Linked DNA regions of Homo sapiens. The protein of the gene in region 1 interacts with the protein of each later gene in a pairwise test. Each region holds a gene or a part of one and is shown in the gene's direction. Other genes may lie near its edges.

The links. Proteins that work in one complex are often made in the same cells at the same time.
Region 2: the proteins of PICK1 (region 1) and AEBP2 interact in binary tests that used the Homo sapiens proteins (3 or more experiments, as listed by UniProt).

The regions. Positions count from the first base shown.
Region 1 is NC_000022.11:38,055,304-38,058,903, forward strand, and holds the start of PICK1 (PRKCA-binding protein), read left to right. Parts: upstream 1-2,100; 5' UTR 2,101-2,284; intron 2,285-2,449; 5' UTR 2,450-2,506; coding exon 2,507-2,547; intron 2,548-3,600. UniProt on the Homo sapiens protein: Probable adapter protein that bind to and organize the subcellular localization of a variety of membrane proteins containing some PDZ recognition sequence.
Region 2 is NC_000012.12:19,437,653-19,441,472, forward strand, and holds the start of AEBP2 (zinc finger protein AEBP2), read left to right. Parts: upstream 1-1,839; 5' UTR 1,840-2,047; coding exon 2,048-2,718; intron 2,719-2,946; exon of another isoform or gene 2,947-3,052; coding exon of another isoform or gene 3,053-3,075; intron 3,076-3,820. UniProt on the Homo sapiens protein: Acts as an accessory subunit for the core Polycomb repressive complex 2 (PRC2), which mediates histone H3K27 (H3K27me3) trimethylation on chromatin leading to transcriptional repression of the affected target gene.

The DNA.
Region 1 (3,600 bases):
TGAGGTCAGAGTGACAGCTGTGCCATGCAAATTGTTTACAAAGCACTCACACCTGTTTCTCCTTTTAATCTTTTGTTTCTGAGATGGAGTCTGGCTCTGTCACCCAGGCTGGCATGCAATGGCGCGATCTCGGTTCACTGCAATCTCCGCCACCCGGGTCCAAGCGATTCTCCTGCCTCAGTCTCCTGAGTAGCTGGGATTACAGGTGCATACCACCATGCCTGGCTAATTTTTGCATTTTTAGTAGAGACGGGGTTTCACCATGTTGGCCAGGCTGGTCCAGATATATGATCTAGATCTTATACCAACTCCTGATCTCATGATCCACACTCCTCAGCCTCCCAAAGTGCTGGGATTACAGGCGTGAGCCACCGCGCCCAGCCTCTCCTTTTAATCTTGACTTTCACAAATACCTGGTGGCAGGTGTCATTTCCCCATTCTACACGTACCTGAGGCTCAGAGTGAGACAGCGACTCACCCAAGATCTCCCAGCTACAAAATGGCAGAGCCTGGGCCTGAGCTAGCATGGTCATGGGCTGGAAGAGCCACAATCCATGTTAAGGCACCTGGGTTTGGAGACTGCTGCCTTTTTTTTTTTTGAAACGGAGTCTCTCTCTGTCGCCCAGGCTGGAGTGCAATGGCCTGATCTCGGCTCACTACAACCTCCCTCTCCTATTTTCAAGCGATTCTCCTGCCTCAGGCTCCCAAATAGCTGGAATTACAGGTGTGCGCCACCGCACCTGGCCTTAGACTGCTGCTTTTTGAAACCAAAATTCTGGCCTGGAAACAGAGCTTGGTTTTCCCAGCCCCAGCCCTGCCGCTATGATACCAGAGGAAGAGGCTTCCCAGGGCCTCCGTTTCCTTGCCTGCACAATGTGGCTGGCAAGATTTGGTCTTCTCTCACAGGGTGGTGGTGAGCTTTCAAATCCTGTGAAAGTGATCTCACAGGAGAGCAGTGGACACGTGGGAAGGCTGTTATTGTCACGGCATTCTGCACATCTGTCCGGACTCAATTAGCCACCTAAGGAGAGAGTAGGGCGGGGCTTCCACCGGCCGTGGGATATGTGGATAATCATCCTTCTGTATCTTTCTTCCATGGCTCCTGGGGCAGCTGGGGAAGCAAGCTGGATGGGCCTGGCCCCATGCTGCCGGATGAGGTGGATGCCTGGCTGTGGCTCTGGGAGAGCCAACCTCCCCCAGGGAACCCACTTTACACAATAGCAGTGGCAGCAGAGGCTGGCGAGGAGACAAGATTCGGACTCTGGGGAGCACTGATAGCATTTCCCGAGCCTCAGGTACATGCGGACCGTGACCCTCCCTGGGACCCCAGGGGGGCTGCTCCTCAGGACTAAGGAAGGAGGAGGGGGTGTGAGAAACCTTTCACCATATACCATAGAAAGCATTTACCTCAATGGCCTTGGTTTACATATGGGGAAACTGAGGCACATAAAGGGAAGGGAGCATGTCCAGTCTGTCCTTAATAGCAAGACCCACTGAATACACCTCTCCTGGCTCTCTGTTTAGTGTTTGGACGTTCAAAGATCCCTAGACTAGGCGGCGGGAGTTTCAGGGCCACGATCCAGATCTTACACCAACTGTGTGTGGCCCCGCACAAAATCACTCCCCGCTCTTTGGCACTTAAGTTGGCGAAACTGGGATGGGCTGGGACCTCAAAGGGCCATTCTAGTAGGGGAGTCACAGGCCCAGGTGGTGAAGGGGTGAAAGGGCATGATGTCTTGGGGTTTATAGTCCACTGAGCCTCGCCGGAGGTAACCCCGGCTCAGGGATGCTTTCGTTGCCATGGCAACCGCCGGGCCGGCGCGGGCCCCTGAGTGCAGCTGAGGAAGCTGGGACAAACCCTGCCCTTCCCAAGATGGCGGCGGCGGCAGGGCAAAGGGCGGGGTTAGACGCTGTCAGCCTGTCCAGACCGTTCCTCTGTTTTCGCTTGTTCCTACTAACAGCGAGCTTCCGCCAATACTTGTTCTCGTTCTTGGTTCCGAGCGTCCCGGGAGCCGGGAAGGGAAGGATTGTCTGCAGGGATTGGAGCAAATATCCAGTGGGGGGAAAGCCGGGACTTCCGCGTCTTGCCGGAAGTGACGTGACAATCGCGGCCACCGCCAGGTGGAACGGCAGGTGGGTTCAGGTACCAGCCTGGCCGGGACCCGGCTGTGGGACCAACGCTTCCGGTGAGCGACAGAGGCAGCTCCCCAGGGCCTGGAGACCCGTGGGGCGGACTCTGGGATCTGAGCCTATCGCCCTGGCCTGGAGCCCCCCTTTGTACCTAGTAAGAATCACCTACCCAGCCCCCCACCCGGAGACTGTCCCATCCCACTCCAGAGGGAAGAGGAGGGCACTGCTGTCCCGTATGAGGTGGTGGAGGGAGGGGTGGCGTTGGCATTTAGGCACTTGGGTTCCTTAAATCCTATGCTCCTTTCTCTCCCGGATCCAGTTCCCCATTCCCCTACCGAGCTGGGCAGTTAGCCAGCCCACTCCAACTCTCGGAACCATGTTTGCAGACTTGGATTATGACATCGAAGAGGATAAACTGTGAGTATTTTATTCCCCCAAGTTCCAGCAGTATAGGAGCCCCAAGTTCCTCATTTCCCTGGACTTCCCAGTCCCACAGACCCTTGCTTCTCAGCGGTGGATCAGTTGTTGTACTGAAGCAGCAATGGACCCTGCTCTCCCAGGAGCTCACTATTTGTAGGGGGCTGTGGACAGTTAAAGGGATAATCACAGCTCAGTGCCATAAGGGCACTATTAGCATGACTTGGTGACAAGAAGAGCAAAGCAGATGGAGCAGTGCTTCTGCTGGGATGGTCAAGGAAAGCTTCATGGAGGACGTAGCAATTGAACCAGGTTTTGAAGGTTGAATAGGAATATTGTAGACACCCTTCCTTCCCAACATAGGTTGTTAGTAGGACAGATTTTCCCATTAGAATATATCCTCTTTCAGATCAAGGAGTGGGTGCAATGCCTTTCTCTATGCTCAGCACTTAGTAAGGGACTTGACGTCAGTAGGTTGTTAGCGAATGTTTTTTGAATGAATAAGTGAATCAGCGTGAGTACTTATCATAAAACACCAGTCAATGCTAATTTATAGTGGAAACCGAGAGGTAATCGAGCAGTTGAGAGGTGGGAGGTGGACAGTTTAATAGAGGAAGACTCCCTGGAGTAGGTGGCCATCATACTACATAGATGCCTGATAAGGTGACAAGGACAGAACCTGGCTCAAATCTCAGAGATCGAATAAATGAAAGGGAAGGGGGACCTATTTTTATGGAGTGCCTGCTATGGACTGGGTTGCTGTTAGTGCCCTCCATGCATGGTTAGAAGAACTCTGATAAGGGTGCTCATCCACATTTTATGGATGAGGAAATTGAGATGCACAGAGGCTGACTTACCCAAGTCCCATAGCTGGCCAGGCACGGTGGCTCACGCCTGTAATCCCAGCACTTTGGGAGGCTGAGGCAGGCGGATCAACTGAGGTCAGGAGTTCAAGACCAGCCTGGCCAACATGGTGAAACCCCGTCTCTACTAAAAATACAAAAAAATCAGCCAGGCGTGGTGGCAGGCACCTGTAGTCCCAGCTACTTGGGC
Region 2 (3,820 bases), on another chromosome or scaffold:
TTTAATTTACAGTTTACAGTGTATTTCACTTTAATACATTCCTTATCTAAGATTGCCTTTGAGGTTTAAAATGTTGGAAGTTAATACCTTACATTGTATGTGCCTCTGAAGGTATCTGTAAATGATGTCCCATGTTATTATTTTTGCATTCCCTTAGAGGCAACATTTTATATAACAGTTGTCCAAAGGCCTAAGGCAGAGGATGTAATACTGGGTACTCACGGTATATGACGACTTTCCCAAATGGGAAATGAGCATGGAGGCTCTGTTTTCAGGCAGTCAGTTCTATCCTCATTTTCCTTGAGTAGAAGCATCCCTAAAATTGGCCTGAAAATGTGTCCTTGGGTCAGGGTGTAATGTGGGCTCTTTTCCAGTCTCCTTTCTTCCAATGACCTCTTCCCTACTTTACAAAAGAAAGGCATAATTCTTCCTCATGCTAAATCTTAGTAAGGTGCAATACCCGGTTATGCAAAAACCTCCAGGACACCAAAGAAAGGCACAATTGACTGGTGAATAAGAATGGGGTAACACATCCTTTCACAAGTCAGGTGGTTTTCAGTTGCTTGCTTTCAACAAGTTGAAAGAGAACCTAATCAGAGTTGTCAGCTGACAGATCATTAAAAGTATTTTTTCTTTGTTAGATCTTTATGCGATTTTTGGGCATATAATGCGAAAGGCATTCAAAGAATTGTGTGGCATTACTATAACAAAACTCCATTCATTCTCATCTGCTTTTTTTATGCGAACAAGTTTTCTCAACACTTATATCCATGGAATTGAAAACTTGGAATAGAACTGATGCTGAACTATTTCTCAAAAAAATCCATCCACTGAAGGTCATAATGTATATTAGAAAAAAGTCCACCCAAGTTCATTTCTGCAAGATGCATTGCCAATAAAATTTTGCTTTTGTGTTTAGTACTTACAAACATTTGAAATAGATTTGTTTTGATCGGTTGAAATAAGAGCTTTATGATCACAGAAAATATAAAAAACAACCCAGATACTTCAATTTATGTTCACATTTTTATTACAAGTAAGACGATCAAAATAGTTCAAATATAAAATATATTACTAGGATAAAATTCTAGAGGAGATATGCAACGTCAATATGAGTTCCAGAAAACAATATTTGGAAATTGTATTTTCCAAACTGTATTTTAAAAAAATGGATATTAGTGGGTGTTAAATCCCTATGGTATTTAGAATCCATTGGCTATACAGTATTTAAACAATGCGACAGATGAAATATTTATAAGCCGGAAAAATGTAGCTGTCATTCTAAACTGTATAAGAACATACACAGCTTTACGAAATTGTTTTAGAAGGCTCATGAAGTAAAAAGTTTGAGGACCCTGAACCAAGATGTTTGCTCTGGGTTCAGGATGTCAACATCTCCAGGGGTATTCAAACATAGGGTGTATTAAAACCTGTCGCCCTGTGTTGCGCATAAAAATTTAGTACCTTACACCGTAGTGTTTTAATTTTTGCCCATTTTAAACCGCTCTCTTCGTAGACTGTAGGCTCGTTCTATTCCTGGCTCAGCTCCTGTACAGAGGGGACACTCCTCAAACACCCCCGGAATGAATGAGTTTATCGTGAGAACTCGGAAGGCTGCTAAAATCCCCGGCCAGCGTTGGAGTTTTCAGTCCGCGTGTCCCTGGGCTTCGAAGCCCGGCAGGGCGTGGGAAGGCCCCGAGGAAACGCTGAGCACTTGCAGGCGCCGGGGCGGGGGCGGGGGCGGGCACTGGGCAGCGGGGCGGGCGCCGGGCGGGGGCGGGGGCGCAGAACCCGCAGCCGGGGGAGGTGCTGCCTCGTGCCGCCGCGCAGGCGCGCAGCAGTCTCCGTGTGAGTGCGCGTAGTCGCGCGCCTGTCCCCGCGCGGGCTCCGTAGCGCGTGTGCAGGCTGACGCAGCTCGCGGGCCCTCCTCCTGCTCTGCAGCGGCGTCGGCGGAGTTTTGGGCGTTTGGGAGGGGGGCGAGGGAGAGAGAGTCGAGAGAGGGAGGCGGCGGTGGGGAGGAGGAGGAGGAGGAGGAGCAGGCGCCGCCATGGCCGCCGCTATCACCGACATGGCCGACCTGGAGGAGCTCTCCCGCCTGAGCCCTCTGCCCCCCGGCAGCCCGGGTTCGGCGGCGCGGGGCCGGGCTGAGCCCCCCGAGGAGGAGGAGGAAGAGGAGGAGGAGGAAGAGGAGGCGGAGGCCGAGGCGGTGGCGGCGCTGCTGCTGAACGGCGGCAGCGGTGGGGGCGGCGGAGGCGGCGGCGGAGGAGTGGGGGGCGGCGAGGCAGAGACGATGTCGGAGCCGAGCCCCGAGAGCGCCAGCCAGGCCGGGGAGGACGAAGACGAGGAGGAGGACGACGAGGAGGAGGAAGATGAGAGCAGCAGCAGCGGCGGGGGTGAGGAGGAGAGTAGCGCCGAGAGCCTGGTGGGCAGCAGCGGCGGGAGCAGCAGCGACGAGACCCGCTCGTTGAGCCCCGGCGCCGCCAGCAGCAGCAGCGGGGATGGGGACGGCAAGGAGGGCCTGGAGGAGCCCAAGGGACCGCGGGGCAGCCAGGGCGGCGGCGGGGGCGGCAGCAGTAGCAGCAGCGTAGTCTCCAGCGGCGGCGACGAGGGCTACGGGACTGGGGGAGGCGGAAGCAGCGCGACCTCCGGGGGCCGGCGGGGCAGCTTGGAGATGTCGTCGGATGGGGAACCCCTGAGCCGCATGGACTCGGAGGACAGGTCAGTGCTCTGAAGCGTTTCCCCTTCCCTTCCTCCTCTTGAACTCCCGGGCCCCTCAGAGGGGGACCAAGGCGACGTTTTGCCGCGATCCCCCTGCTCCCCGAATCCTCGGCCCCTCCCCCAGACTCTCAACTCGGAAATCTCTCGCCGTCGCCGCCGCGCCCCTCTCGCAGCGCATCGCGGCTTCCAACTCTCAAACCGTTCCCCCCCAACTCTCCTTTCCCCGCCCTCTTTCCCCTCGGCGCTTCGCTCCTCACGGACCTCAGGACGGCTCTAACTCGGAAACAGTCCCCAAACGGGCCCAGATCCTCTGGCGGAGCAGAAGAGGGCCTTGATGTACACACGTCGGTACTCAAGGTTAGCTTCTTCCAACCGTGTTCGGGAACACTTGTCAGAACTACAATTGACAAGTGTTTCCAATATGGCTGGTCTCGCCTGGATTTAACAGAACTTCCTTGTCCATGGGAGAGACCCCAGCTATCACTTTTCTCTACTTAAACAAAAAAAGGACTGTTCTTTTATATTAAATCATTGCCTCCCAAATCCCTCATTTGTAGTCAGTCATGTGGTCTCCAACGTGATTTTAACAATCTTTTCTATTTGTTTTGGGAGCATATCTGGGAAAAAGTTTTAAACACGTATAAATGGTTGTGGAAAAGAATAGTGAATTGATGGCCTTTTAAGATAACTTTGCGGAATCAGAGAGTTGGAATCGTAACAAAATACAGTCTTGAAGGTACAACGTAGTTTGCGGCTTTATAGTAATGTTTCAACATGAGAGTCATGATTTTAAATGATAATATTTAAAGTCATGCATTGGAGAGGTCTCGGAAGGAATGAGTATTATTTTTCTTACTAAAGCTTGTTAGAAGTAACTGGAGAGTGACAAAAATGCGCATTTTTTCAGAACATTTAAAAAGTGTGATAGTGTATGTTTCAATTGTCTTATCATTACTTTTGATCTGTTTGGGTTAGTTGGTTTTTAATGTACTTTTAAAAAAACGAGAATCACATGCATATTATGCCACTTCTAAAGTGTATTAGCGTTTATTTTGACCATCTATGTTTTGACAATCACATTTTTTTTAAACATGCTCTCCAG